Regions from separate parts of the Homo sapiens genome. Here regions 1 and 3 are each linked to region 2. Evidence: fine-mapped expression QTL. A gene starts in region 2. Each other region holds a variant in brackets. All regions are shown on one strand. Distances are from middle to middle. Region 1 overlaps FLJ33534 (Putative uncharacterized protein FLJ33534). Region 2 holds the start of SLC66A3 (solute carrier family 66 member 3). Region 3 overlaps PPIAP60 (peptidylprolyl isomerase A pseudogene 60).

Region 1 (10,351 bases), 31 kb before region 2:
AGACCTCACTTAGCAATGCCCTCAGAGACACATTACACAGTTGGTAACGCTCCACCAAATATGGCACCCTTGGCCCAGTCAAGGTGATCCATAAAATTAACCATCGTACCATGTCATTTCGTTGTTGTCAGGGGTCAATGAAATAAAGCATTCGAGTGGTTAAAGAGGTACTCAAGATGTGTACCTATTACCACCGACATCATTATAACAGCAGGACACGGGTACATCAGATTCCCAACATTGCTAAAGCCACGGTGTGATGATTGGGATGAGCTAAAGTATTATAATTGTCTTCTCCATGAGCTGTAAGAAGAACAAACAGTGGCCAGGCATGGTGGCTTACACCTGTAATCCCAGCACTTTGGGAGGCTGAGGGTGGGAAGATCACTTGCACCCAGGAGTTTGAGAATAGCCTGGGGAACAAAGGGAGGCCTCATCCCTACAAAAATCAAAAAGAGTAACTGGGCATGGTGGTGCACACCTATAATCCCAGCTACTCGGGAGGCTGAGGTGGGAGGATCACTTGATCCCAGAGGTTGAGGCTGCAGTGAGCCATGTTCACACCACTGCACTCCAGCCTGGGTGACAAAGCTTGAGGCCCTGTCTCAAAAAAAAAGGAAAAGAAAAGAGGCTGGGCGTAGTGGCTCATGCCTGTAATCCCAACATTTGGGAGGCCAAGGCGGCAGGATCATTTGAGGTCAGGAGTTCAAGACCAGCCTGACCAACATGGTGAAACCCTGTCTCTACTAAAAATACAAAAATTAGCCAGGCGTGGTGGCACTTGCCTATAATCCCAGCTACTCAGAAGGCTGAGGCAGGAGAATCACTTGAACCTGGGAGGCAGAGGTTGCAGTGAGCCAAGATGGTGCCATTGCACTCCAGCCTGGGCAACAGAGCGAAACTCCATCTCAAAAAAAAAAAGAACAACAAAGTGGTGAAAGGGCATGGGTCCCTGGTCAGGTCAACACCATCACCTCCCCCAGGAAGCCCTGCCCACCCAACCACACCCTTTGTCTGCCCACTGACTTCCCAGAGCTCTTGCCTGCCCAGTCCTGGGGCAGAGCGTCCCTGAGTCCTAGTTTAATTGTCCACACATCCGTACCCCGTCCACCTCTAATCTAACCTGCTGCCAGACAGTGTCCATATGTCAAGCTGTGTGTGCCCTGGTGCCACCCAGCACACCCACGTCCCCACTCATCCATGCAAGCTCCTCCCAACTGTCAAGATGAAAGTGTCACTTGTCAAAAGTGCACCAGGTGCCAGCCTCTGAGCAGGTGCTTCATTGCCTCTGTTATTTCATTTAACTATCATGCATCATGACAAATAAATGATTTGAAGAGTCTCTTAGGGAGGGTGCTATTGAAGAAAACATGCTCTGCTGCCCAGGTGACAGGAAGTGAGGGCCTGAGAGTAGGTTTAGAGGACCCGAGACAGACAAGCTGTCTCAAGAGAAATGGACAGGAACTAGGGGTTGAGGGAGCAGAGACAGGACCAACCCTACAGCAAAGGAAGGCGGGAGGCGCAGGCCCGTCCTACCTTCCCAGGATTTAGCTGAATCCCAGGACTCTGGAGGAAGGGTGCAGGAGTCTTGAGGTGATGCCTTCCCCAGAGTCTGGTCACCTGGGAAGGTGGATGCCGGAAGAGCTTCAGGGTCGAGCCCAGGATCTGCATTTTAACACACTTCCCACATCGTGTTTGGGAACCACCGCTCCACCTCTCATGAGGAGGAAACAGGCCTGTGAAAGGAAAGAGACTTGGAATGAAGGAACCCCAGAGCTGAAGGGCCTCCGAGCTCACCCAGCCCCAGCTCACTCTCAAACAAGACGTATTTGTAGCAGCAGTTTCTGCTCAGTCCCTTCTGTGACAGCAATGTCACTACCTCCCAGAAGTGCGTCTCAGAAACAACTCACTTCGCAGTAGCAGACGAACTCACTCCTGGGCTTTGCCATTCTTTAAAGACTAACAGCCTTAGAAGAAATCATTGCAGAGCTGGCCACAGGCCACCTGGGAGCTAGGCAGAATCTGTCTTTGGCCCCAGCCTCTCTGTGATCTTTTCTGTTGCCATGGAGGGATTTCCCAGGACCCATGAGTCAGAGCCCTGAGTTCAAATGCCAGCTCTGCTGTGTGACCCTGGCAGGTTACTCACCTTCTCTGAGCCTCCCTTTTCCAACAGGTATAATGGAAATATGACCTACCTTATGGGCTGGTGTGATGGGGAAATGGCTTAACAAACAAATGAGATGCCTGCAACCCCCAAAAGTCCCTTCCTGTCCCCTTTCACCATATCTCCTCCCCTTCCTCAGTCTCAGGGGCCTGTAGCACCCCTTCCCCCGGCCTTGATTGCTCTCGGGGGACCACTGTGTGGGTTGCTTTCACCATGTGGACAGTAATCCTCTGAGTGGCTCCCTCCCCAGGCACTTCCGCATTCCTGATCTGCCTTTTCCCTGAGCTTCCGAAGACTTTCTCCCCGGGAAGAAGCACAGCTGAACTGAGAATGAACAACCTCAAGGGGGGTGAGCACAGCACTTCACAGTTTGCAGAGCCTCTGGCCCCACCCTCTCATCTGTCCTCTCTCAGCACAGGGGCAGGTCAGGGTGATGAAGCAGGAGCGGGGACAGAGGTCTGCAGAAGCCAGTCCCACAGATCTGGGGACGCTCACCTGGCCAGGCACCCACTTCCCACCCTGACCCCAACCAACCTCCACCTCCCACCACACTAAGGAGCCCCGCTGCTCCTTTAGGACCCTGGGTTATCGCTCCTCTTTAGGGGACAGCCTTCCGCCTTGGTGGGTGGGGCAGAGACTGAGGCTCCAGGCATCAGCCTCACCCCTGACAGAAGGGGCGCCCTCAGCCCTGGGCTCTCTCCACCCTCCCTCTAAGACCCTCAAGGTGTACAGAGCTATATATGTTACAGGAAAGGGGTCCCGATCCACAACCCAAGAGAGGGTTCTTGGATCTCACCCCAGAAAGAATTCAGGGTGAGTCTGTAAAGTGAAAGCAAGTTTATTAAGAAAGTAAAGGAATAAAGAATGGCTACTCCATAGGCAGAGCAGCCCCGAGGGCTGCTGGCTGCACATTTTTATGGTTATTTCTTGATGATCTGCTAAACAAGGGGTGGATTATTCATGCCTGCCCTTTTTAGACCATATAGGCTAACTTCCTGACATTGCTGTGGCATTTGTAAACTGTCATGGCCCTGGTGGGAGTGTAGCAGCGAGGACGACCGGAGGTCACTCTCATGGCTGTCTTGGTTTTTGTGGGTTTTGACCAGCTTCTTTACTGCAACCTGTTTCATCAGCAAGGTCGTTATGACCTGTGTCGTCTTGTCCCATGACTTAGAATGCCTTAACTGTCCAGGAATGCAGCCCGGTAGGTCTCAGCCTCATTTTACCCAGCTCCTACGCAAGATGGAGTTGCTCTGGTTTACATGCCTCTGACATGAGCATGTGTGCCCACCTCGATCAAATCCATCAGGGGCACCTGCACCACTTAGCCCTGCCAGCCATTGGCCTGCTCCTACGGTGGGTCCCCTCCAGAAGTCCCCCAGAGCTCTTCCTCTCTTCACCTGCTTCCCGCCCACACATGCCCTGTGCTCCAGCCACAGGCACCCTGTCCAGATCCCTCCCCCATCTCCATACCTTCGCCCATGCTGTTCCCCCACCTGGCATGCTGGCACCCTCCTCCCCACCCCCACCCCAATCCAGCCACCTGCAAACTCCTCCAAGTTCCAGCTCAAGCCTTTATCCCCTTGGAAGCTTCCCAGAGAGGCTCAGACAGAAAAGACACAGCCAACTTACTATTCAGTGAGCCTCTCTCCCTGTCAGGGATACGAGGAAGGCCTGTCACTGAGACCCTACGATCCTGCCCAGCAGGGCTGCCACTCTCCAGCCCACTGTGGCACTCATATTGAGGACAGGGTCACATACCTGGTAATTATAACTTCAAGTCTATTTAACCATATGCCAGGCACTGTGCCAGGAGCCTTGCGTGGATCAACTCATCCAATCCTCACCCTCAGCCTAGAACTCGGAGGGCACAGAAGAGGCACAGCCACAAGGCTGCTGCTGCAAAGGACGACACAGGCAAATGCAGGTTGGAATAGGTGAAAGGGTCTCTCAAGGAAATGAGCTGGAGTCGGGCCTGGAAGAGCAGCAGAACATGCTCCTGGCCCTGCCACACACCTGGGTCCCAGAGCTACATGGAGCTGGCTGCCACCCCTGTCTGCAACCCTGGCCATCCCCGCAGGACGCCTGACAACTTCCTTACCCTGGCCTGCTGGCTAGAAACACCCGCCAGGCAGATGGCCTTTCTGACTGGCCTTCTCCTGGCTACTGCAGCCTCACCGGAGGGCCAGGGCCAGGGCCAGGGCCAGGCCAGGGGTGGCTCCTGCCTCAGCAGGACAGGGCAGCTCCAAAGGTGGGCTCTGCACCAGGGTCTCCCCTGAGCCAGGCAGGGGCTCCCCACGGGAGACAGTGCCAACCGCACAGGCCAGGGGTGCAAATTGAGGCTGGGGAAGGAGAGGCTGATCTCCTGGTGATCAGGGGGGCAGCACCAGCCTCAGCCATGCAGGTGTGAATTCCTCCCCACAGCCTGAGATCAGTGCC[T/A]CACCCCCGCCCTCTCTCCCCAGGCTCCCCGCTGGATTGCCCCTGCCTGACACCCCATGCTGGCAACCAGAGGCTGATTCTGCCCGACTGCCTCCAGCTCCTCGAGTGTTCAGCCTGGGTTCCAGAGGGAGGCCATACAGCCCCGTCAGAGACCACCAGGGAAGTATCACAGACCGCAGCCAGCGGGTGAGCTCAGCTGGGAGTTTGCACCAAGCCTGGCTCCGGAGTGTGGCCTGACTGACGCAGGCTGGGACCACCCTACATGGGCCGGCAGGTGTGGGTACGTCCTGGGGCTCAGAGAGGGGCTTGGAAGGCCAAAGGCAAGGCGGCCGGACCCGTTATCGCAGCACATAGCATCCCCTTGACTTGCTGGGAGAAGCTTGCGCCCTCATAGTTAGCAATTCCATGGCCACTGGAGGCCAGAGTGGGAGCTGGGAGGCTCTGGACACCATAGCTTTGGGCCCCCCGGCCCTCTCGGGCTGGTGTTCACCTGTAAATGCTGCTTCCGCTGTTCAAGCGCTGATGCTCCTCGTCGCTCACGGGTGAACAGCTGCTGCCCACCTCCAAGACCCCCCGCACCCTGCACGGCAGGTGACCTCTTGCGTCCCTTCTGGGCCCTCCCTGTGGATTTAGAATGTCGCACCTGCCTGCCGAGGCTCACAGCTGGGTTCCTTTCACAGACACCGTATCCGGACAATCCATTTGTTCTGTCTTTAATCAGAAATGGCCATAGCGAACTACCGTGCGTCCAACCTGAGACACCTGGGGATGGTGGAGCCAGGGGAGATGCCGCGGGCCTGAAGGAGGATGCGAAGCTCCAGGGTGCCCCCTGCTGCCTCCGGAGCGTGCTGCAGTCATGGCCGACGTGGACCTGGCAACCTGCTCCGATCTTCAGAAATATTATCCACGAGACCTGCTTTCTCCCATAATGCATTCGGCTGGCCACCCATGGGAAGCTACAGAATAAAGAACATAAAGACATGCTCCAGAATATGTTCCCAATGCTTAAAATTCCCCCAACTCCCAGGAATCTAGAGTCTTTGAAATATAGATCATTGAGTATCTTTTTGATAACCGAAGTAAAACTGTTTATGTGAGATGCTTTTTCTCTGCAAATAACAACTGAAGAAGAGGCCAGAAACTATAGTCAGAAGGGATTCTGGTCCTGGGGGTCCATTTCTTGCCTGTGCGGTCTAGGTGGGTTGTGGTCTTCCAGTTTCTGCCCCTAAATCCACATGTGATCGGCTCCACTTCACAAGGCCGTCACAACACTTCACAAGAGAAATGCAAGAAAGCACACTTTTCAAGCAGTGTACACAGTTGCTGTTTTTAATGCCATTATCCATCAGGGAATTTCTCACTTGTCTCCCAGAGGCTCGAGTGGATTGAAAATATAAGGTCTATTTAATGAAAATTATCAAGGAAGTTCCTGGGGAAAAATCCTTAGGCGTAGTCAAGTATTAGTCAAACCACAGCTCTGCAGTTCCAATAAAGCACAGACTTTAGAAGTTGTATGAGTGAATTCCATGCAAGGCCTGCCACTTATTGCCTGGGTCCCTGGACAAGACACTCAGCCTCTTGAAGACTTTGTTTTCTCATCCATAAAATGGAGCTAATACTGTTCACCGAATGAGGTGAGGTGAGGACTGGAAATAATGCCTGACGTACAGTGGGGGCTGAATACAAGGTTGGTTCTTTTTTTTAAGATGGAGTCTCGCTCTGTCACTCAGGCTGGAGTGCACTGGCATGATCTCAGCTCACTTCAACCTCCACCTCGAGGTTTCAAGTGATTCTCCTGCCTCAGCCTCCCAAGTAGATGGGATCACAGGCTCGTGCCTACCCACACCCAGCTAATTTTTGTATTTTTAGTAGAGATGTGGTTTTGCCATGTTGGCCAGGCTGGTCTCAAACTCCCGACCTCAGGTGATCTACCCACCTCAGCCTCCCAAAGGGCTGGCAGGAATTACAGGTGCGAGCCACTGTGCCTGGCCATACAAGGTCGGTTTTATCCCTTAATAGATCCCAGAAGGAATTCAAATCTGTATAATCTGTGATTGGTTGAATTGTGCTTCTCAAAATTTGCATTGAAGTGCTAATCCCCAGCACCCCAGAATGTGACCTTATTTGGAACCAGGGTCATTGCCGATGTGATGAGTTCGGATGAGGTCATACTGGAGTAGGGTGGGCTGAGATCCAGTATGAATGTGCCCTCATAAAACAGGAGAAATTTAGACAGAGACACACAAAGAAACAACACCATGTGAAGATGAAGGCAGAGATTAGGGTGATGCTTCTGCACACCAAGGAACATGGAAGATTGCCAGGAAGGTCCCAAAAGTGGGGTAAGGGGCCTGGCACAGATTCTCCCTCACTGTCTCAGAAGGAATGAACCCCACCGACCCCTCTTCTCAGACCTCTGACCTCCAGCACTGTGACACGCTCCATTTCTCTTGTTTAGCCACCCAGTTCATGGCATTGTGTTAGGGCAGCTCTGGCAAACTAATACATAATCCAAGAGAGACTGTCATAGATTTACTATCTTTACTGTTGAATAATCCTTACCAATGGGCCCAGGCCGGGCATGGTGGCTCACGCCTGTAATCCCAGTACTTTGGGTGGCCAAGCAGGGTGGATCGCTTGAGCCCAGGAGTTTGAGACCAACCTGGGTAACATAGCGAGAGTCCATTGCTACAGAAGAATAAACAAAATTAGCTGGGTGCGGTGGTACACACCTGTGGTCCCAGTTACTCAGGGCACTGAGGTGGGAAGATCACGGGGCGCAGGAGGCTGCAGTCAGTCGTGATGGTGCCACTGCACTCCAGCCTGGACGATAGAGGGAGAGCCTGTCTCAAAAAAAAAAAAAAAGCCCAGGAAGGTAGGGTCAGAGCCTAGACAAGAACCCAGTTCTCTGGATTCTCAATTCTGTGCTCTCTGCACTACCCCTGACAATCATATCTTAGGCGTTAACATGATTGACCAGGTGCAGTGGCTCACACCTATAATCCTAGCACTCTGGGAAGTCAAGGTGGGCAGATTGCTTGAGCCCAAGAGTTTGAGATCAGCCTGGGCAACACAGTGAGACCCTGTCTCTACAAGAAAACACAAAAACTACCCAGGCATGGTGGCGCATGCCTGTAGTCCCAGCTACTTGGGAGGCTGAGGTGGGAGGATTGCTGAACCCTGGAGTTGGAGGCTGCAGGGAGCCAAGATCATGCCACTGCATTCCGGTCTACTCCCTAAAGATATGCAGTAGACACGGGAGGAAGCACGTCCGTTCAGACTTTTCTCATGCATTCAACTCATATTATAATAACAACACCAGAATCAGACTGCATATACCACTTTGCAACACGTTTTGTTATTGTTGTTTTATCATGTTTGTTTTGCTTAACATTATATAGATGACATCTTTACAAGTAATAAGTATAGTAAAGATACCACAAGTAACATAACCAGTCTTCTATTGATGGAATTTTTTTTTTTTTTTTTTGAGACGGAGTCTTGCTCTTTTGCCCAGGCTGGAGTGCAGTGGCACGATCTCAGCTCACTGTAACCTCCACCTCCAGAGTTCAAGCAATTCTCCTGCCTCAGCCTCCCGAGTAGCTGGGACTACAGGCATGCACCACCATGCCCGGCTAATTTTTTGTACTTTTAATAGAGATGGGGTTTCACCATGTTGGCCAGGTTGGTCTCGAACTCCTGACCTCAGATAATCCACCCGCCTCGGCCTCCCAAAGTGCTGGGATCACAGGCGTGAGCCACTGCACCTGACCCTTGATGGACATTTAGATTGTTTCCTTTTTTTTTTTAACTAACACAAATAACACTGCAGAAAATAGCCTCAAGTAACTTTGCACATTTGTATGTTTTTTTGCAGAATAAATGCCTAAACATGGCAAATCTAATATGTTTGTGATGGTTTTAAATAACCTCTATAAATTATTTGATCCTCCTCCCATCAAAAGTGGAGTTTAATTCTCCTCCCTTTGAATATGGGCCAGTATTCATACTTGTTTCTAATAAACAATGTGGTAGAAGTGGCACAGGGTGGCTTCTGTGGTTAGGATAGAAAAGGTGACACTGCTTCCACCTGGTTCCCTCTTTGTCAGTTCCTCATCCTTGAAACACAGCCACTTCACACTGGAGAGAAGCCCAAGCCACATGGAGGGGCCGCAGCTGGCCGCCAGACCCACCTGAGGTCACAGCCGACAGCTGGCATCAACCTCCAGCCTTGAGAGTGAATGAACCTTCGGATGGCCAGGTCCCATCTCATTATTTTATATCGAAATGATTTACTCTCAAAAGAAAAATGAAAGAAATACAAATTATAGCAATGTTATCTTTAGCAAGGACTGCTTGCAAGGTTGGCCCTTGGTTCGTATCTGGGAAATTGGATTTGGGGAGGGTTCCCGCCCTTCCCTGATATGAATGGCTCACTGCCCCTAAACTGTGTAAACACTGTGGTTTATGTCTTCGTACTGGGAGTCCAGAATTTTGGTACATGCTAGGCAGAGGGGGCCTTTGTGACTAGCCTGCAGTAAAACCCTCGGTGCCAAATCTCTAGTGAGTGTCCCTGACAAATGACATTCCACACGTGTTGTCCCAACACACTTCTGGGGGAAGTGGGCGCGTCCAGCATGTGAGAGGGTCTTGGACCCTCACACTCCATTTCCTCTGGACTTGACCCATGTGCCTTTTTCCTTTGCTGAATTTGCTTCATTTCCAGTTGTCGTAATACATCATAGCCTCGAGTATCACTGTATGCTGAGTTCTGCGAGTTCTCCTAGCCAATCAACAAACCCAGGGTGGTCTTAGAGACCCCAACACGCCACAGCAACAAGACAACAGGGAAGCCGGCGCTTCCTGTATGTGTATACATTGCTGGTGGTACCTGGGCACTGTGAGAGCAACACAGCCTGTCTGTTGAGAGCCACTCAATGTCCACTTCCTCTGACTCAGTAATCCCATCTGGGAATGTGTCCTTTGGCAACAATTCCACAGCAGGAAGCAGAGGCTTGAAGATATTCATCACAGCTTGTGCTAAACCTGAACAAAACCTAAATGCCCAAGAAGAGAAAAAATTGGTTAAACACATTATCATGCATCAACTCTAAGAAACTGGCTACAATGAGATGTGTAAAGATTATAAAGCACCTGTGGTCCCAGCTACTCAGGAGGCTGAGATGGATCTCCTGAGCCCAGGGAGGTGGAGGCTGCAATGAGCTACGATCATGCCACTGTACTCCAGCCTGGGCGACAAAGTAAGACCCTGTGTCAAAAAATATATATATATATAAAGAGAAACATGAAAAAATATTGCTGATACATTAAAAAAAAAAATTTGGCCAGGCATGGTGGCTCACGCCTGTAATCCCAGCACTTTGGGAGGCCAAGGCAGGCAGATCACTTGAGTCAGGAGTTCAGGACAAGCCTGGCCAACATGGCGAAACCCAGTCTCTATTAAAAATACAAATATTAGTCGAGCACGGTGGCACACCTCTATAATCCCAGCTACTCAGGAGGCTGAGACAGGAGAATCGCTTGAACCCGGGAGGCGGAGGTTGTAATGAACAGAGATCGCCCCGCTGCACTCCAGCCTGGGTGATAGAACGAGACTCTGCCTCTAAATAAATAAATAAATAAATAAACAATTTTAAGCTGGGTACAAAATGGTAGGCACATTGACAGCAACTGTACAACCAACAAGTAAGACCCAAAGCGGCTACTTAGAAGTGAAAACGGTTGGGG
Region 2 (9,868 bases):
TGGCCGGGCTGGTCTCGAACCTCGTGATCCACTCGCCTCAACCTCCCAAAGTGCTGGGATTACAGGCGTGAGCCACTGTGCCCAGCCGAAAGCCCTTGTTCTTAGGAGGTGTTTGCTGAAAAGTCCCATGATGTATATAACAAACTTGCAAGTGGCTTAACGAAAAATTTGTGTTTAGGATTTTTTTTCTTTTTTTTTTGAGATGGAGTCTCGCTCTATCACCCAGGCTGGAGTGCAGTGGTGCCATCTTGGCTCACTGCAGCCTCCGCTTCCCAGGTTCAAGCAATTCTCCTGCCTCAGCCTCCCGAGTAGCTGGGATGACATGCACCTGCCACCATGCCCGGCTAATTTTTGTATTTTTGTAGAGACAGGGTTTCACCACATTGGCCAGGCTGGTCTTGAACTCTTGACCTCAGGTGATCTGCCAGCCTCAGCCTCCCAAAGTGCTGGGATTACAGGTGTGAGCCACCGTGCCCGGTGGTTTAGGAATTTTTTTTTTTAATGAAGGTGGGGGAATGGCCACTGTGAAAGAAAAATAAATCTCAACTCCAAAATCACTAAGCTAAGGGAAAAGTCAAGCTGGGAACCTGCCTCCCATTTTAATTCCTGAATAAGATGGCTATAAAGATAAAACAGCTACATGCCTCCCTCACAATTTGCCCACAAGGAAATTCCTTGTGGGCCTCAAGATCTTTACCCTACTCAGGATCATGCCAAGAATTAAAAAAAAAAACAAAAAACAAAACTTTACCCTGAAACATTTCTGTTGAATTCATCCTGGCAATGTAAACTGATAGCTGATCTTAACAGGTGCAGGACAGAAAATCATTCCTCTGCTCACCTGAGAGAAATGCTTATCTGATTGCTTCCTCAGACCTACTGTGTATGTAAAAATGAAGATTCACTGAGCCAGACTAGATTGTGAATTCACTGAAAGGCTGATCAAGGACTCAAAAGAATGCAAGCTTTTGTCTCTTATCTACCTATGACCTGGAAGCCCCCCTCTTCGAGTTGTCCTGTGTTACTGGATGGAACCAAAGTATATCTTACATATATTAATTGATGTCTCAGGTCTCCCTAAAATGCACAAAAGCAAGCTGTACCCCAGCCACCTTGGGGACGTGTCGTCAGGACCTGTTGGCAAAATAAACTTTTAAATTGCTTGAGACCTGTCTCAGATATTTTGGGTTTACTGCCACCACCAATGGCTCTCGAGTTCAGATCTCCTCTGTTGAAGAGAGTCAGGGGGTGAGGGTGGGGGAGGCATGGAATCAGTTTCTGCTCAATTCCATGTTCCCACGTGAAGGTGTAACCACCTAAAGGGCTCACCTTGCCCGCTGCCTAGACAGACCCCATTTATCAAGACAGGGGAAAGAGCAATTCACACAGAGCCAGCTGTGCGGGAGATTGGAGCTTAATTATTACTCAAATCAGTCTCCCTGAGCAGAGCATTCGGGGATGGAAGTGTTTTTGTTTTTGGTTTGGTTTGGTTTGGTTTTAGACGGAGTCTCGCTCTGTCACCCACTCTGTCTGGAGTGCAGTGGCACGATCTCGGCCCAGTGCAACCTGTGCCTCCTGGATTCAAGTGATTCTCCTGCCTCAGCCACCAGAGTAGCTGGGATTATAGGCACAAATCACCATGCCTGGCTAATTTTTGTTTTTAGTAGAGACGGGGTTTGGCCATGTTGGCCAGGCTGGTCTCTTACTCCTGACCTCAGGTGATCTGCACGCCTCAGCCTCCCAAAGTGCTGGGATTACAGGCGTGAGCCACCGCGCTCCGACTGGGGATGGAAGTTTTTAAAGATAATTTGGCCAGTAGGGGCTTGGGAAGTGGAAAGTGCTGATTGGTGAGGATGGAGATGGAATCACACGGGGGTCGAAGTGAAGTTTTCTCGCTGTCTTCTGTTCCCGAGCGGGGATTGCAGAACTGGTTGAGCCAAATAATTGGTCTGGGTGGTGTCAGCTGATCCATCCAGTGCAGGGGCTGCAAAATACCTCAAGCACTGATCTTAGGTTTTACAATAGTGATGTGATCCCCAGGAACAATTTGGGAAGGTTCAGACTCTTGCAGCCAGAGGCTGCCTGACCCTAAACTGTCATTTCTAATCTTGTAGCTAATTTGTTAGTCCTACAAAGGCAGACAGGTCCCAAGGCACAAAGGTGGTCTTTTCGGGAAAGGATTATTACTAATTTTGTTTCAGAGTCAAACCATAAACTAAATTCCTTCCCAAGGTTGGTTCAGCCTATGCCCAGGAAGGAACCAGGACAGCTTAAAGTTTAGAAGCAAGATGGGGTCAGTTAGGTCTGATTTCTTTCATTGTCATAATTTCCTGTTATAATTTTTGCAAAGGTGGTTTCAATGAGACTCCTTGGCCAGCTTCAGTCAGGGAGCTGATTCACTCTGTGCAGCTGTGGCCCAGGAGTGGGGTTAGGGTCCTGTAACAGATTGTGACCAGGGTTGCCATGTAGCTGGGGAGGAGGCAGAGGTCTCTAACATGGGGGCACTATCTTGTCCTGCAGAGATATCCCAGTGAGTGTGCACTGTAGAGACCCCCGTCCAGACACTCCCCAACCTCCTGAAGGGACAGAGGAGCCTCGCAGATCAGCTGTTTTGAGGCCATCCTCCAAGCAGAAGAGCTGGCATGCTCTTGAGATGTCCCGCTGGGCATGGGGGCTGAGACCCAAACGCCTTCCTGCATGGCCCAAACCTGGCTCCAACCTAGGACCGCCCCCATCCCCACAGCTTCAGGAGCAAAGCCAGTGCCCACAAATCCCAAAAAGGTTTTGCTAGTTTGCACCTGGTGGGGAATGACCATATACGTTGAGCACCTATTCTGTGCCTCTCAATAACCTTCTGAGCGGGATGGTTCTCCCCTTTTAAAAATGACGCTGAGGAACAGGGAAGTTAAGGTCTGTCCAAGATCATGCAGCCTGTAGGGGCCAATGCTAGGAGGACAGCTGAGGTCTGCCTAACCCCGAAGGGCCACACACCCACATCACTGCATCCTGGTCTTCACGCAAAGTAGCCAGGGAGGGGTCTAGGAGCCAGGAAGAAACCTCTTCCACAGCCCTGCCTCACCCAGCTGACCCCCAGAGCAGGCGGCTGCAGTGTCCTGGGCCAGGAGCAGCATTTGTTCCACAATGGAGGAGGCCACTCCCTGCGTGGTCCTGGGGGCACTCATACCTCTCAAAGGCCCCTCATGCTGCCTGCATCCCCAAGTGCTAGCGCAGGCTGACCCCAGGTGGGAGCAGTTCCCTCCTAAGGCTAGTCCTGGGGGCCCAGATCCTGGCCAACCCCTGGAATAAAGGCTGGGGCAGAAGGGGAAGAGGAGGGAGGGGGATTCCACTGCCATGTGGCAGGAACCAGGCACTTCCAACCAGGACCACCTCCTTGCATCAAGGGACCTATCACATGGCATGATGAAAGTAAAACACCTGGCACGCAGGAGGCACTCAACAGGTTCTAGATGTTCCTATAGTCATTGCTGCTGATGCTTGTTAAAAAGCTCTTTACGCTGGGCGCGGTGGCTCATGCCTGTAATCCCAGCACTTTGGGAGGCCAAGGCAGGTGGATCACCTGAGGTCAGGAGTTCGAAACCCCGTCTGTACTAAAAATACAAAAATTAGCCGGGAGTGGTGGCACATGCCTGTAATTCCAGCTACTTGGGAGGCAGAGGCAGGAGAATCACTTGAACCCCGGAGGTGGAGGTCGCAGTGAGCAGAGATCGTGCCACTGCACTCCAGCCTGGGCGACAAGAGTGAAACTCCGTCTCAAAAAAAAAAAAAAGCTCTTCTCTATTTTCTTCTTCAAAAAATTTATATACATATTATTTATTTATTTTTGAGACAGGGTCTGGCTCTGTCTCCCAGGCTAGAGTGAAGTGGCGCGATCTCGACTCACTGCAACCTCCGCCTCCTGGGTTCAAGCCATCCTCCTGTCTCAGCCTCCCGAGTAGCTGGGACCACAGGCACGCGCCACCACGCTCGGCTAATTTTTGTATTTTTAGTAGAGGCGGGGGTTTCCCTATGTTGCTCAGGCTGGTCTTGAACTCCTGGCCTCAAGCAATCTTCCCGCTTCGCGGGGTCAATAACGATCAGTATCGATCTAGCCAGGGCAGGTCCAAGCCGTTTCCTTTAAGGGTTCCCTTCTGAACATCCTTTTCTCATTTAGACTTGGGAGGCAGGACTCAGCACCTGTTTTTTTTTTTCCATAGGCGGAGGTGATGGGCCGGTGAGGCTGGAGAGAAAGAGCCTCGGCCAGAATTCCGAACTCCGAAGCTGACCCAGCTCCCGTCCCTCACACTTCCCGGCTGAGATTTATGGCACAAAACCAGGGATCGTGGATTCTGGCATTGCATTTTGGTGCTTTTTTGCCTGCTTCATAACCAGGCCCTAATACACAGGCGATTTTCAGAGGTTGGAAAATGCGTCCTTCCCTTTCCCTCAGTTTGTGGCTTAGACGGCCACGTCCAAGTTACTTTATCAGGAGAAATCCTTAAGAAACAGTTTCACTGTGAAGTGCTCAAGTTCAAGGCTTCCGGTGGCCCCTCAGGGCCCACGCCGCTAGGAGGGAAGCCTTCAGTCCCAGGCTGGAGACAGGCCGCGTGCTCTGAAAGGGCACAAATGAGGCGACCCTGGGGCTCTGGTCCCAGAAAGTCTCTCCAGCCTGGTTCCCCACCTGTAAGTCGGGAGGGTGCACTCAGCCCTTAAGCAGGAGGCTTTAACTCCTGAAATGCTTAGTGAGAGAAACTAAAACACTTGCAGGGAGGGAAAAATCCCGGCAGAATGGCCCATCCCCCGGGGCCATTTGCCTCTCGGTCCACCCAACCCGTGGAAAAGCCGGACTTCCAGGGCGGCTCCCGGCGGCGGCTAAACTATCGGGTGGCAAGAACGCGGAAATGCGAAGCAGCTGCTGGTGGAGCCCGCAGGCCAGGGTGGGACTGTCGCCCGGGGCGGGGCTAGGAGGGGAGGGGCGGGGCGAGGAGGGGCGGGGCGAGGCGAGGTTGGCCACGGGATTGGGCTAGGTGAGGCCGACCGGGAGGGGGCGAATCTGGGGGCGGGGCGAGATGAGGGTAGTCCGAGGACTGAGCGAGCCCGGGCGGGCCCGTAGGCGAGGCGAGATGAGGCTGGCCAGGGGGCGGGGCGGGCCCGGGCGGGAGGGGCGGGGCGGGGCGGGCCCGGGCGGGAGGGGCGGGGCGGGCCCGGGGGCGGGGTGCGTCCAGGGGAGGGGCGGAGCGAGGCGGGTCCGGGGCCTGGCGGCGCGCGGAGGGGCGGGCCCTGGCCGGGTGGTCCCGGGCGGATCCCGGGAAGGCGGAAGGCTTCGGCAGAGCTGCGCCGCCGAGGCTGAGCGGTCCCTTCTCGCTGCGGCCGCCCAGGTGCCCGCGCCCGTGGCGCTATGGAGGCGGCGCTGCTGGGGCTGTGTAACTGGAGCACGCTGGGCGTGTGCGCCGCGCTGAAGCTGCCGCAGATCTCCGCTGTGCTAGCGGCGCGCAGCGCGCGGGGCCTCAGCCTTCCGAGTTTACTTCTGGAGCTGGCAGGGTAAGGCCCGGGGCGGCCGGGGCTGCCTCCTGCCCCCTCGCAGCTGCTGCCGGCTGGGAGCCCAGGAGAGCCTCGGCTCGAAGTAGGGCGGGGATGATCCCCGCGCGCCGGCGTCGCAGCTGGGCGGCCGAGGGTGAACTAGGGAGCCTAGGGGCTCGGGGTGCTCTTCCCACGGCCACCCGCCACCCGCGTACATTGTTTCTCACCAAGCCCCGCGTGGCACGAATTGATTGCGCACGCCCATTTTACAGATGAGAAAACAGACCCAGCGGAGGCAGCCCTTGGTGCGCTAGTGACAAAACCTGCTGGCCCTGAGCAAGGCCATTTGCACCTCGAGGCTGTCATATTCATTGTCCCTAAACTCACCACGCACCGTCAACCTCGTTCTCGGGCCTCGGTTTCCTCACCTGTGAAATAAGGGGTTGAACTAAGAATGTATGAATCTCTTCTCTTCTCCCGGTGATTGGTGGGGAATCTTTCCTGGTTATTTAATGAGATTCCTTGGGAGAGGGTCTTAAGACAATTGCATTTCTTGTAGAAAGAAGTTTCCTTAGTCATCTGTAAGGAAGTTGGAGAGTCTCTGCAGTTGGGAAGGGGTGACGGAAAGGTCGTTAAATCCTTGATTCTGAGGCAGCTTCTAAGGCTTTCCTATTCAAAGTATTCATCATGCCAGAGCGCCAAACTTTTGGGGTATCATTTTTGAGCCCCAACAATAGGAAAACACATACCTCAACCTAGTGGTCTCGCCCCTTCCCCCTGGCCAGGCCAGGCCTTCCCCTTTGCCCCCCGCCATCACCCAGTGGGGTCTGAAGCCTGGTCCTCCACACAAGCCTTCCTGGTGGGCGGGGTGGGGGGTGCGGCATACAGGATGGGAAGAAGCCAAGGGGTGCGGGGGAGAAAGAGGAGACCTCAGGTGTGGGAGGGTGAGGGGTCCCACTCAGGCTTTGGACCCCGCGCCGGCCCTATGGAGCCCGGCCCTGGGCACAGTCATCCAATAGGGGGCTTTGAGGGGAAATTTTTGGGAAAGGCTTGCAGTGGGAGGGACTGTGACCTCTTCCAGGCTTGTGAGTGACTCTACCCTGCGGGGTGGGGAGGGGGGGGTCCCAGGCTGGATGGCAGGGTTGAGAGGCACCCAGGGGAGGTGGGCAGCATGCGTTTCAGGTTGGTGCCACCACCAGGCTGGGAGCAGAGAGGCTGGAGCGATGAGGTTGTGGCAAAGGACACAGGCTGGAAGTGGCTGTGGTGACTGTTCAGGTGGGAGAGGGGACAAGGGCATGAAAGCCAGGAGTGGGATTTGGCCTCGGCCCCTTGCTAGGTCCCTGAGCTGGGGAAGCTGAAGCTGGACCCATGAAGGAAAAGAAGCCAGGCTGTCTGTAGAGTCTATAGATTCCCTCCTGCCGCCAGCCCCTAGGCCTGCATTTCCACCACTTTTGCAGCATTGCTTGAAAAATGCAAACCCTCAGAGATACGCAGGTGAGGGCTCCTATTAGATCTGCCAGCTGTCACCTCTCCCAGCTCACCTTAGTGAAAGCTAGACCTCTGGCAGTGGAAGGATCTTCCTGGGCATGGGAGCTCAAGGGTTGGGTGGGGCAGCAGCTTGCTGCCATCCCTGCTGGCCTGTCTAAGGGTCTTGCAGTTGATCACGTGCAGGTAAAGGGGGCTCTGTCGGGGCTGGTGCACCAGCTCTGCAGCCTCCAAGCCAGGGCCAGGGCCAGGCACACAGACTTCTGTAAAATGGGCTTGGCTGTGTCAGGACCCATCCTCCTGGCCCTCCTGTCTCCCTGCCTGCCTCCCTCATGCCCTTCCCAGCCTTGCCTGGGAGGCCCACCTGGGGCTGGCCATGCTTGCCAGCTGGGCCCCCGGGCCCCTGACCAGATCAGGCAGCAGCCGGAGTTAGAGCAGAAGGAACCCCAGGGCTGTCGCAGTCAGCCACCTGGAGGGCACGGGCCCTCTTTGGGTCTCCATTTGAGCAAACTAAGAGCCTGGTTTTGAGAGCACTGAGTCAATTGGAGCATGAAGTGTGTCTTAATAATGCCAGAAAAGCCTTTTTAGTGTGGCTTGGTGTGAAGGGCAGGAGCCTCTGCCCAGGGACCTGCCTCTGCCACCCAGGGGCATTCCTTGTAGCTGGAGCCTTCCCCCTCGCAAGTTCCCAACCTTGCTGCTTCTCCTGCCTCCAGGGCTCTGCTGGGCTCTGCCTCCCTGCTCTCTGCAGCCAGGAGCCTCCTGGAGCACAAGATTCATCCAACCTGCCCTGCCTGCAGCCTTCCATGGACTGCGGCCCTCCCACGGTGGACCCTTAGGCTGTAGAGCCTTGGCCTCTGGGTAGGATGCCTTTGGAGCCCACCCCTTGCTCCAGGTCACTTGTCCCCCAGCCTGGGTGGGGGTACGTTTTGTTTAACCCTCTAGTAGGTGTTGAGGGAGAAAACTCCAATGGCTGCATGGAGCAGATGGGAATGGAAACAAATGGGGCTGTGTCAGATGCCCGGCTGGCATGATTTTATTATGATAAGCACTATAGCGATTACTTATTAAAAGAAACTTTAAAGGGACAGGCATGGTGGCTCATGCCTGTAATCCCAGCCCTTTGGGAGGCCGAGGCGGGCAGATAACCTGAGGTCAGGAGTTCAAGACCAGCCTTGCCAACATGGTGAAACCCCATCTCTACTAAAAACACAAAAATTAACCAGTGTAGGCTGGGTGCAGTGGCTCACACCTGTAATCCCAGCACTTTGGGAGGCCCAGGCCGGCGGATCACGAGGTCAGGAGATCAAGACCATCCTGGCTAACACGGTGAAACCCTGTCTCTACTAAAGATACAAAAAATTAGCTGGGCGTGGTGGCTGGCGCCTGTAGTCCCAGCTACTTGGGAGTCTGAGGCAGGAGAATGGCGTGAACCCGGGAGGCGGAGCTTGCAGTGAGCCGAGATCGTGCCACTGCACTCCAGCCTGGGTGACAGAGCAAGACTCCGCCTCAAAAAAAAGAAATTAGCCAGGTGTAGTGGCACACATGTAGTCTCAGCTACTCGGGAGGCTGAGCAGGAGAACCGCTGGAACCCGGGAGGTGGAGGTTGCAGTGACTGAGATCGCGCCACTGCACTCCAGCCTGGGCGACAGAGCAAGACTCCATCTCAAAAAAAAAGAAACATTAAAAACTAAAGGAAAGACACTGTCCCCACCCCACCTCCCCAGGCTGCAGGGATGGGGGGAGTTTGAATCCCAGGGAAAGCAGGGAGTAGACGGCAAAACCTGCAGGGGCAGCAACGGCTGCATCCAGATCAGCCTCGGGAAATCCAGGCTCTTCATCTTGTATGTTCTTGGTGTCTATGGGCCTCCATTTCCCCAAGTGGTCTGTAAGTTGTGGAGGCCAGCATGGATGACCCCTGAAGGTGAGAACGGGCTCTGACATCCCCAGGTTCTCAGGCCTGGCCTGTGGACTGTGGCTGCGTCCCAGGGGTCAGCACACACTTACTTCGATGGTGAAGACCCCCATAGCTTTTGTTCTTCAGCACTCAGTGGCTGGCTGTGGCCCCACAGAGGGGCTGGGGTGCAGCCTCCCCCTCTGCCAGCCCCCCTGGGCTCAATCTCCCAGGGGAACAGAGGGGGCTGCTCAGGAGGCTGGCAGGAGGAGAGTCCCTGCGGCAGGGCAGGGCAGAGGCACCGCTTGTCCCTGAAGCTGGGAGGTGGCTCAGCTGCACAGCACCCGGAGGGCCTGCAGGCAGCTGGGGGTGGGGACCCTGCTGGGCACGGTGGGGGCCCGCACTCGGGGACCAGGCCTGTGGGAGGCCCTCGTGCTCAGGGCAACACTGTGACCTCCTCTGACTCCGCCCCCAGCTAAGTTGTGCACTGTCAGAAACAGGCCAGGGAGGCACAGCCTGTTTGTGAATCGGACTTTTCCAGGATTCCTTCCCAGCTTAGGAGATTGGAGACCCTGGGGGGCCCCTCCTGTGTGTTGAAGTCCCATGGTTCCGGCTCCCCTTTCTTCCTGACCTGAGTGGTCTGAACACACAGGTGAGAGGGAGGGAGCCAAAAAGCTGGGTGATGAGACAAACAGGTAGCCCCAGGAGACCACAGGGATTCCGGTCCTGAAGGGAGATGGCTGGGTGTGAGGGGGAGGCAGGAAGCTCTGCCTTTTCTTCTGAGAATGTGGGACCCTGTGGCCTTCGCAGCATCCTCACAGCCGGAGTCTTCTTAGCGAAATTGAGGGTGGTTCTTCACGCTTTCCCCCACTGCCCTCTCAACCGGGCAGCTCTTCTGGAAGGCAACTGGACCATCCAGGTGCTGTTCTAACTCTAAAAACACGGCCACAGACCCCCGCATCCAGGGATGGTTGC
Region 3 (10,351 bases), 210 kb after region 2:
TCTAGAAATTTCCCTCCTTTCTTTCTTTCTTTTTTTTTTTTTTTGAGATGGAGTTTCACTCTGTCATCAGGCTGGAGTGCAATGGCACAATCTTGGCTCACTGCAATCTCTGCCTCCTGGGTTCAAGCAATTCTCCTGCCTCAGCCTCCCGAGTAGCTGGGATTATAGGTGCCCGCCACCACGCCCAGCTAATTTTTGTATTTTTAGTAGAGACAGGGTTTCGCCATGTTGTCCAGGATGGTCTCCATCTCCTGACCTTGTAATCCACCTGCCTCGGCCTCCCAAAGTGCTGGAACTACAGGTGTGAGCCACCGCACATGGCCTCCCTCCTTTCTTTACTTATGAAAACGTACTTATCTTTTAAAGGTTTACTTAAATGCCACCTCTGCTGTGAGCCCATCCCAAATTCCATGTAAGAGTCTATTACTCATTACTCTGTGCTCCCATTGCACTTCCCATGGACTTTTATTAGAGTATTTTCATTCTCCTTTCCCTGATGTGCATAAAATAGCTATGAATTATTGGCCTCCTCTGTGCCACTATTAGGTTATAGGCAAACGGCATACTGGCTAAAAAATAAATAAAGACAGTTTCTGTTCTCTGTGCTTTCAGGTCCCCTCCCCTCACTGAGAGCTTCTTGGATCCTGTCCTGGGAACTTTCTCCTCATGCACTGCTTTATCCTGAGTCTGTCTCCACTGCTCTGTGGAAACCTGCACATTAACTTGCTTCCTATGAAGAAAATCTGTTGAAATAAAAAAGAAAATGGTTCTGAGCCCTAAAAGGAAGGACAATGAGGTATTAATTAGCAACAGTTCCCAAATCAGGGATTTAATTATTTGGCATTCAGACAGTCAGAAAGGAAATTGAGAGTAAGGAAATAAGCAAAAAATGTCCTATGTGAATAGGCAGAGAGGCAGAGCAGATGTCATAAAGCCTGTGCACTGCATTTTAGCCTTTTGCTCAAGTCTTTATCTTCTAGACCCAATCCTAACAAACCAATGATGTATTACGAAAAAGCAGACAAAACGCATGGCGTAGTGATGCTGGGACACTACCAGAAATAATAGGGTGTGAGAGGAGTGGATGCCATAGAATTAATGCAGAAGAAAAACAGATTGGAGCCCTCTAGCGGGGGGGCAAATAGTCCTCTAGTCCTCCGAGCTTCCACCATCTCCACCTCCATGGACAGCACTACATGGTGCCCAGCATTGACAATCACAGAGATGCCCGAATTATCAGGAACATGTTAAACTACCTGCTAGATCCTCTCAGAAGGCAGCCACGTGTAGGCTGGGTGCAGTGGCTCATGCCTGTAATCCCAGTACTTCGGGAGGCTGTGGCAGGTGGATCACTTGAGCCTAGGACTTTGAGACCAGCCTTGACAACATGGTGAAACCCTCTCTCTACAAAAAATACAAAAATTAGCTCGGCATGGTAGTACGTGCTTATGGTCTCAGCTACTCAAGAGGCTGAGGTGGGAGGATCACCTGAGCCTGGGAGGCAGAGGTTGCAGTGAGCCGTGATCACACCACTGCACTTCAGCCTGGAGCCTGGGTGACAGAGCAAGACCCTGTCTCAAGGAAAAAAAAAAGGGGGGCAGGGCAGCCAAGTGTATATAAGCTATTTAAAAACAAAAACAAAGTTTTAAAAATTATGTGTTTGTTCAAAAGGTTAAGATTTTCCCCAAGATATTCTCACAGTTTGTGCCCCTTCTTCTCAGGTCTTTGTTCATTTTTTGTGTGTTTTTGTGATGGAGTCTCGTTCTGTCACCCAGGCTGGAGTGCAGTGGCATGATCTCAGCTCACTGCAACCTCTGCCTCCTGGGTTCAAGTGATTCTTCTGCCTCAGCCTCCCCAGTAGCTGGGACTACAGTTGTGTGCCACCATGTCTAGCTAATTTTTCTATTTTCAGTAGAGACAGGGTTTCGCCATGTTGGCCAGGCTGGTCTTGAACTCCTGACCTCAAGTGATCCACCTGCCTTGGCCTCCCAGAGTGCTGGGATTACCGGCGTGAGCCACCGCACCCGACCTACAGGTCTTTGTTCAAATGTCACTTCCTGAACCCCTTGATTCAAATTGCAACCCCACCCCACTCCTAGCCACCCCACGCCCAAGCCCCTTTTCTTACCATATTTTTCTTTTTTCTTTTCTTTTTCTTTTTTTTTTTTTGAGATGGAGTCTCGCTCTGTCACCCAGGCTGGATTACAGTGGCATGATCCCGGCTCACTGCAAGCTCCGTCTCCCGGGTTCACGCCATTCTCCTGCCTCAGCCTCCCAAGTAGATGGGACCACAGGCACCCGCCACCACGCCTGGCTATTTTTTTTTTTTTTTTGTATTTTTTTAGTAGAGACGGGGTTTCACCATTTTAGCCAGGCTGGTCTCGATCTCTTGACCTCGTGATCCACCCACCTCAGCCTCCCAAAGTGCTGGGATTACAGGCGTGAGCCACCGCACCTGGCCTAACCATATTTTTTTATACCACTTATCACCTAATATAATATATAACCGAGTGGTTATTATCCATGTCTAGCATCCCCCAAAAATGTAAACTCCATGAGAGTAGACGTTGGTCTGTCTGTTTAGTTTCCTGCTGTGTTATGGGGAAACTGTGCGTCTGGCACCTATAGGCCTCCATTATTATTATGATGATGATTTATTTATTTATTTTTGAGATGGAGTCTTGCTCTGCCGCCCAGGCTGGAGTGCAGTGGCGCGATCTCGGCTCACTGCAAGTTCCGCCTCCCAGGTTCACACCATTCTCCTGCCTCAGCCTCCCAAGTAGCTGGGACTACAGTCTCCCACCACCACGCCCCGCTAATGTTTTGTATTTTTAGTAGAGACGGGGTTTCACCGCGTTAGCCAGGATGGTCTTGATCTCCTGACCTTGTGATCTGCCCTCCTCAGCCTCCCAAAGTGCTGGGATTACAGGCGTGAGTCACGGCGCCTGGCTATTACTATTATTATTATTTTTTTGAGAGAAAGTCTCACTCTGTCACCCAGGCTGGAGTGCAGTGGCGCGTCCTTGGCTCACTGCAACCTCCACCTCCCGGGTTCAAGTGATTCTTGTGCCTCAGCCTCCCAAGTAGCTAGGATTACAGGTGCTTGCCACTCTGCCTGGCTGATTTTTGTATTTTTAGTAGAGTCGGGGTTTCACCACGTTGGGCAGGCTGGTCTCAAACTCCTGACCTCAGGTGATCCACCCGCCTTGGCCTTCCAGAGTGCTGGGATTACAGGTGTGAGCCACCGCACCTGGCCAGGCGTTCGTTGTTGGATGAAAGCATGAGTGAATAAATTTAGTTATTTGGAAGACATATTTACATTGTTAAAAGTCATTCTATGGAAATACTGGCTAAGGGCACAACAATTATATGAGAATTTTTTAACACAGGGCATATTAATTCATTGGCAAGTATTTATCAAGGTCACACTCTATGCAGATGCTGTGCATTGGAGATTTGCTTATTTTGTTTCCACCCACACTTTTGAGTTCCTAAAGCCTTTACCAAGTATTCCACATGCAGAGTCACTGACACACTACACATCCATGCACACATGCACGTGCACACACACAGACACACACACAGACCTGACACTCTGGTTCCTTCTTATAGCCATGCTTCGATCTTATCAGCTCTCTTATGTAAAAGTTTGACAAGTCTGGTCTATGTCGCCTTCAGAAAATTCTTAGAAATAGGAAATGATTATATTGATTAGAAATGATAATGTTTTCCCAGGAGTGAGCCTAGAATCATTATTTAACCACCGTTTATTGTAATGTTGGAGGCAGACATTGGATCTTGAGGAGTACACTGGGCATAGAGCAAAAACTTGAGTCCTAGCCCTGGATCCATCATTTAAGAACTGAATGATTCTGGCAAGTGACTTAACCACAAATAGCTAGTTCAGAGGTCTTTTTTTTTTTTTTACAGGACTTTGTAAGTTATAAAGTGCTACACAATTTTAAGGAATCATCATTATTTTGTTGAAAAGTAAAATAATGTATGACACAGCACTAGAATTAGGGATGAGATCTTGGTGATTCATGACTCTTGATATGCATGGGTATCAGTCTTGCTATCTCAGACAACTTCTGATGGAATTTGCTGTGCAACCTTCACATTTACGACCTCAGTTTCATCATGTGCAAAACAAGGTTTCTACCTAGTTCCAGCATGCTGGGATGATTTCTCTGACTGATTACAACTGACAGGATCAGTAAGTCTGTAGCAGGAATTGGGATGGATTCC[C/A]GTTGGCCCTGAAGCCTGGCGTGATGTTTCTCTAAGCGTGAAACTAAACTTTCTTAATTCATGCCCTCATTCATTCATTCAATAAATATTTATTGAATATCAGTTGGTGGCAGAGGCTGTACTAGATGTTGGGAATAACAAACGGAAGAAGACAAAAGTCCCAGTACTATCAGTGATCAAAGTTGAGTCAGAGAGCAGATTTTTTTTTTTTTTTTTTTTTTTTTGAGGCGGAGTTTCGCTCTGTTGCCCAGGCTGGAGTACAGTGGCGCAATCTCGACTCACTGCAAGCTCCGCCTCCCGGGTTCATGCCGTTCTCCTGCCTCAGCCTCCCGAGTAGCTGGGACTGCAGGCGCATGCCACCACACCAGGCTAATTTTTTTGTATTTTTAGTAGAGACGGGGTTTCACCGTGTTGGCCAGGATGGTCTCGATCTCCTGACCTCGTGATCCGCCCACCTCGGCCCCCCAAAGTGCTGGGATTACAGGCGTGAGCCACCGCGGGTGTACACACTAGGAGCCGTGAGGAGAGAGGAGCAAGGTTCAGGGGCCCACAGAGGCAGGCTTGCTCACTTTGTCTAGGAGAAACAGATGGGGCTTTGCACGGAGAAAACGTTTCAGTGGGACATCAGAGGAGAGGTGGGAATTAGCCAGGCAGGGGTGGGAAACAGGCATGGAATAATGTAGGGAAAGAATGTGGGCACACCCTGGGGTATTTCACTTTGGCAGGTGCATTGGCTGTGTGCTAGGCACTGTAGATGAAAATGCATGAATATTCAAGGCACAGAAAGCAGAAAGGATGGAGCTGATGAGGACTGGATTGTAAAATGCTTGTAGGCCATAGTTAAAACCCTTTCATGGGGACGTGTAATGGTTAAGGGCACAGACTTACTGCATTGTTGAATGCAAAAGACTACAGAGCATGTTCCCTTTGTGTAAAACTATGTACCTACACCATTCAGTCGTTCAACAGATTAACAAATACTAACTATACAAAACACTGGGGATACAGAAGCAAGTAGGACAGAATCCCTATCTCTGGGCGAAACATACCAATAAAGTGTAACAAATGTTTGATTACAGGAACGCCAAGCAGGAAGACAAATCTGGAGGATTTGGGCCAGGAGGGAATGGGCCAGGGAAGACCTCCCAGGGGAGGTGACATGTTAAGCTGAATCTTTTTTTTTTGGTGGTGGTGGGGTTGGGGGGGCACGGACAGAGCCTTGCTCTGTCACTCAGGCTAGAGTGCAGTGGCACGATCTTGGCTCACTGCAAACTCCGCCTCCTGGGTTCAAGCGATTCTCCTGCCTCAGCCCCCGAGGTAGCTGGGACTACAGTTGTGCACCACGTCACCAGGCTTATTTTTTGTATTTTTAGTAGAGACAGGGTTTCACCATGTTGGCCAGGCTGGTCTCAAACTCCTAATCTCAGGTGATCTGCCTGCCTCAGTCTCCCAAAGTGCTGGGATTACAGGCATTAGCCACCGCGCCCGGCCATTAAGCTGAATCTTTAAGGGTGACTACGAACTGTCCGGGTGACTCTAGTAGGAAGTATTCTAAGCAGAAATACGGGTGAAGGCCTGGAGATCTGAGGAGGTAACTGAGACTTTATCATGGCTGCCATGCAGTGTTCCGGGTGGGGGTCTATGGTAAAGAGTTTGGGTTTCACCCCAAGGGAAGCTGTTGCTGGATTTTGAGCAGGTGAGCAGTATGATAAGCTTTGTATTTTGGATATGCATATCTATATCCATGTAATGCACATGTCTCACCTCATCAGCTTGGTGTGCAAAATAAAGACACCCTTCCTTAATACTCAAGTCATAATGCCCAGGAGCCCCCACCCATTCAAATTGGAGGGAGGATTATATCTCTGAGATTCACTTCTCCAGATATTTCTGAAGATTCGTCTATGAATCAGACCCTTCAGGCTTACCTTGGCTGCCACCTCCCAAAGAACATGAACTTGGCTGTGTCCTTGTAGGCTGACCCCTCCATCGATGACCTGCTTCTGCTGGCTGTGTCCAGGGTGGCCTCCCTGAAGCCACCGGAGCAGAGGCCTGGTATCTTCTCAGAGCAGCAGCCAACCAGGCAGCTGGAGGAAACCCCTGGTCTCTTTTGCAGCCAAGTGAGTGTCTTCAGGACTCTACTTGCTGCCTCTGTATTGGCTGGTGCAGGCCTATTTCACCTCAGTGTCTCCCCAAGAGAAAAGGGGAGACCCTCCTCCCATGTCACATTCAGAAGAGGCCTCCTAGTAACTGGCCTGTAACTGTGACAACTCTGGTGGATCTAGGCACATAAGCAGATAGCCATTCATCAGAAGGCATGACCAAATCATCACGTGGCCATGTCGGGAGAGGCTGTAAGCTCAGCTGCAGGCCCTGTCTGGAAGCAGTGTCCCCCTCTGACCTCAGGAGGGGACACAGCCATCCTCCTGTCCAAAGATCAGTCCCAATTTCTTTCACGGCTGTCCAGGGGGAGAGCTGTTCAGGAGGATAGAGACCATTATTACCCATGCCTCTTACTTGCCATCCACATTTTGGGAGGCTGGCTGCCTGCAGCTGTCAGGGCAGCTCCTTCCCATCACAGGAACCACGTTGAGCCTCCCAAGGCCGGTCCTGGGCCTGCCCCCTCCTCCCTCAGCCCTCAGACTGGCCTAATTCCCTGCCCAGGATTATCCACTTTTCAGAATGAGTGACAATAGAAGCATCCACTTCCTGCAGGGATGCAGTACCTCCCCCATAACCTCACAGCCGACTGACTTTGGCATATTTTGCATGATTTGGTAAATGGTATATATGCATAGAGAAACTTCTGGAGTGTTGTTTTCTCAAATTTTAATAGCAGTGTCTCTGGAACTCAGGAGTTTTTACAATCTTCATTGTACTTTACTATGATATTTGATTTTTTTTCATTATAACTGTGCATCATACTTATAGGAAAATAATTTAAGCCTTGGAATCAGATAGCCTTTGGCAAATCAGATCATCCATTTCCTTATCTATTAAGTGGGAAAAATAATATTTCACAAGGTTATTGAGAAAAAAATCAATGCCATTTTTATTTTCATTCCTCATAACTGACATAATTGCATATATACACATCGTGTGATTATATTGTATACCCTGGTGGGTTTCCTTAAAACAGATTCCATTTTCCCTTTCTCTTTATTTTCCCCTCCCTCCCCTTCTAGTCTGTTCCACTCATGTCATGGCTCCAGGCTGAACCTGGGCCCATGACACAACCCACACAACCATGTTGACAACCTTGAATGCACCTTCCAAGTTTTTTTTTTTTTCCTTTTTTTTTTTTTTTAGACAGAGTCTCTCTGTCACCCTGGCTAGAGTACAGTGGCGCAATCACGGCTCACTGCAGCCTTGATCTATCCAAGCCCAGGTGATCTTCCCACCTCAACTTCCTGAGTAGCTGGAACTACAGGCGTGAACCACGAAGCCCAGCTAATTTTTTAATTGTTTGTAGAGATGAGGGTCTCGCTTTGTTGCCCAGGCTGGTCTCAAACTCCTGGGCCTCAAGTGATCCTCCTGCCTTGGCCTCCCTCTTCCATGTTTTTTTCCATGGTAATTCAATAATAAAAGTATATAGCTATATTCCCACATATAAATGGTTTTTTGATCATTTTAAAAAAGAAATCGGCCAGGTGCAGTGGCTCACAACTGTAATCCCAGCACTTTGGGAGGCTGAGGCAGGTGGATCACCTGAGGTCAGGATTTTGAGATCAGCCTGACCAATATGGTGAAAGCCCATCTCTACTAAAAATACAAAAATTAGCTGGGGCGTGGTGGCAGGTGACGGTAGTCCCAGCTACTCAGGAGGCTGAGGGAGGAGAATTGCTTGAATCCGGGAGGCGGAGGTTGCAGTGAGCTGAGATTGTGCCACTGCACTCCAGCCTCAGTGACAGAGCGAGACTCCATCTCAAAAAAAAAAAAAAAAAGAAATCATATTATACTCAATTCCATGTATCCTATGTATCCTGCTTTTCTCACTCAACAATACTTTTTGTAACTTCATCCTAGTCACGTGGCAAAGCTCTGATTTTAATGGCTGGATTCTGTTTCATAATTTGGAGATATAATTTGTCATCTGTGCCCATGTTATCAATATTCACTTTGTTTCTAGTTTTTGCCACTATGAACAATACTACAACATGTGTGTGCACTTACATACACACACTCACACTCACACACACACTCACACCCACACACACTCACACCCCCCCCCACACTCACACCCACACACACACACTCCTTTGTTATACTGATGATTTTATTTCTTTGTAATAGGCTTTCAGAAATGGGATTTCTGGGGAAAATATAGCCAGTCAACAATATTTCCAGTGTGTGCTAAGCACTAAGTGTCTTTTACATAGTAATTGCTTAATAAAGTGATGTTTGCTATTATTCTTGTTATAAGCTGGGGAGTCATATTTTGAAAAAGTGTAGTCATTTATGGGAGTCCTACTTATTTAAGATACATTTACTTTAAAGACACAGGTTATCTGTAATAACTGAACTAACAACTGTCCTTTCCTTGTTTATACAAAGTCCAAAGGAAATAGGACTGCATTGGAAAACTAAAATAGACATGAAAGTTTGCCTCCTCATTTCCTCCTTGCCATTTCAAATCCATTTCCTCAGTGAGACAGGAACCCAGAAGCTGAAGATTTTGCTCCCATAATTGGAGATTCTTGTTTCGCATTTTTAAAAAAAATTGTTATGAGCTTCTTTGCATATCTGATTTGAAAAACAAAAAGAGAGCTCATTAAAGAGTTTTTCTATTATGGAGAGGCAATAAGGAACCAACTCGTAGCTTTTCAATGAGATGAATGAATAAGTGCCTGTGTCTGCAGCCCCACATCTGCCTTCTCAGGGCAGAAGTTTGCAGGAGAAATCAGGCAATTTCTAGTCTGAAGGTTCTCCTTGTTATATTCAGCTACTCACAATGAGAATTGAGGCTGCAGCTTGTGAAGAGAGGGCAGTTTTGCAAAATGCACATTTGGTGGATTCTGGACATGAGCCATTTGACCAAAACGTCAAAGCATGACAGATTTCTAACTCCGGACTGAAATGGAAGCTTGTGCATTGGCTGAAAGCCAGTCCTGGACTCCTGGACACAGCCGAGAGCCCAGAATGTGAGGGAAATTCTGTGTGAGAAAAGGCATACCCACAGTTTTAATGAGAAGGGAAATTGGAGCTTCCATTTTCCTACTGCCTTGTTCGCTTTTTGTCTGGACACCTTTGAGCCAAAGGAAGCTGGGGAGGCCCATGTGGGTGCCCTTCCGATTCTGAGCCGTCAAACTGGCACGCTGTCCACACGGGTGGAGGCAAGCGTCAGAGTCCCGGGCTGTTTCTCAGCAATTGTCCAGCTCTTTCTGCTCTCTTGCTTTCTGTCTGGTTTGCATTTCAGTGAATGCCTAACTTCTTGTTTTCTGGCTTTTAGGCCCATTTTTGGCCCCATAATAACCTCTTGGACAGAATTGTTTTCCTAGTTTGACCCTCATCAGTCAGATTTTTTCATTTTATTTTAATCGTTTTTATTTTTATTTTTTTGAGATGGGATCACTCTATCACCCAGGCTGGAGTGCAATGGCAAGATCATGGCTCACTGCAGCCTTGATTGCCCAGGCTCAGACAATCCTCCTGCCTCAGCCTCTCCAGTAGCTGGAACTATAGGCACCACTGCCCTTGACTATTTTTAAAATTTTTTTGTAGAGATGAGGGGAATCTCGCTATGTAGCACAGACTGGTCTTGAACTCCTGGCCAGAAGTGGTCCTTCTGCCTCAGCCTCCCAAATTGTTGGGATTACAGTCGTGAGCCACTGTGCCCAGCCTGATTTTCCTGTTTTGATCCAACTCCAGTTCTAAAACCCTATTTATCTCCCAGCATCGGGTTGTCCTCTTGAAAGGGAAATTGGAAGTTACAGTGATGGGGTCAAGGGCTCAGTTTTCAAGGTGGAGGCTTAGACAGAACTCATTTCAGACCTGAAGAAGGAAAAGCTGATTGATGCTCACATGCCAACTTTGTTTCCTAGCTTGTCCTACATCCAATCTACCTTGTCTTAAAGAGGTTCAAAAGTTTGGTCCTTATCTATGG

The links. PIP is the estimated chance that this variant, and not a neighbour inherited with it, causes the effect. A credible set is the group of variants that fine-mapping cannot tell apart.
Region 1: its variant is the best candidate, but not a certain one, in a credible set for the expression of SLC66A3 in whole blood (TOPMed, PIP 0.53).
Region 3: its variant is the best candidate, but not a certain one, in a credible set for the expression of SLC66A3 in whole blood (INTERVAL, PIP 0.86).

What each region holds. Positions count from the first base shown.
Region 1 is chr2:11,119,227-11,129,577 of GRCh38, forward strand. FLJ33534 (Putative uncharacterized protein FLJ33534) reads right to left here. Exons shown (of 9, transcript NR_040080.1): 2 at 9,758-9,872; 3 at 9,495-9,660; 4 at 5,357-5,559; 5 at 3,926-4,063; 6 at 1,537-1,736. Among named protein-coding and RNA genes, the nearest start is that of FLJ33534, 7.8 kb to the right of the region's middle. The variant T/A (reference allele first, on the strand shown) is at 4,604.
Region 2 is chr2:11,150,152-11,160,019 of GRCh38, forward strand. It overlaps SLC66A3 (solute carrier family 66 member 3), which reads left to right and starts at 5,316. Exons shown (of 7, transcript NM_152391.5): 1 at 5,316-5,538. The coding sequence starts at 5,396. It overlaps CIMIP5 (ciliary microtubule inner protein 5), which reads left to right. Exons shown (of 3, transcript NM_001371321.1): 3 at 1-1,166. RefSeq lists an enhancer at 2,147-2,647 and silencers at 4,903-5,382, 5,493-5,732, 8,393-8,641.
Region 3 is chr2:11,358,922-11,369,272 of GRCh38, forward strand. It overlaps PPIAP60 (peptidylprolyl isomerase A pseudogene 60), which reads left to right. Exons shown (of 4, transcript XM_047446546.1): 3 at 6,225-6,368. Among named protein-coding and RNA genes, the nearest start is that of PPIAP60, 12 kb to the left of the region's middle. The variant C/A (reference allele first, on the strand shown) is at 4,249.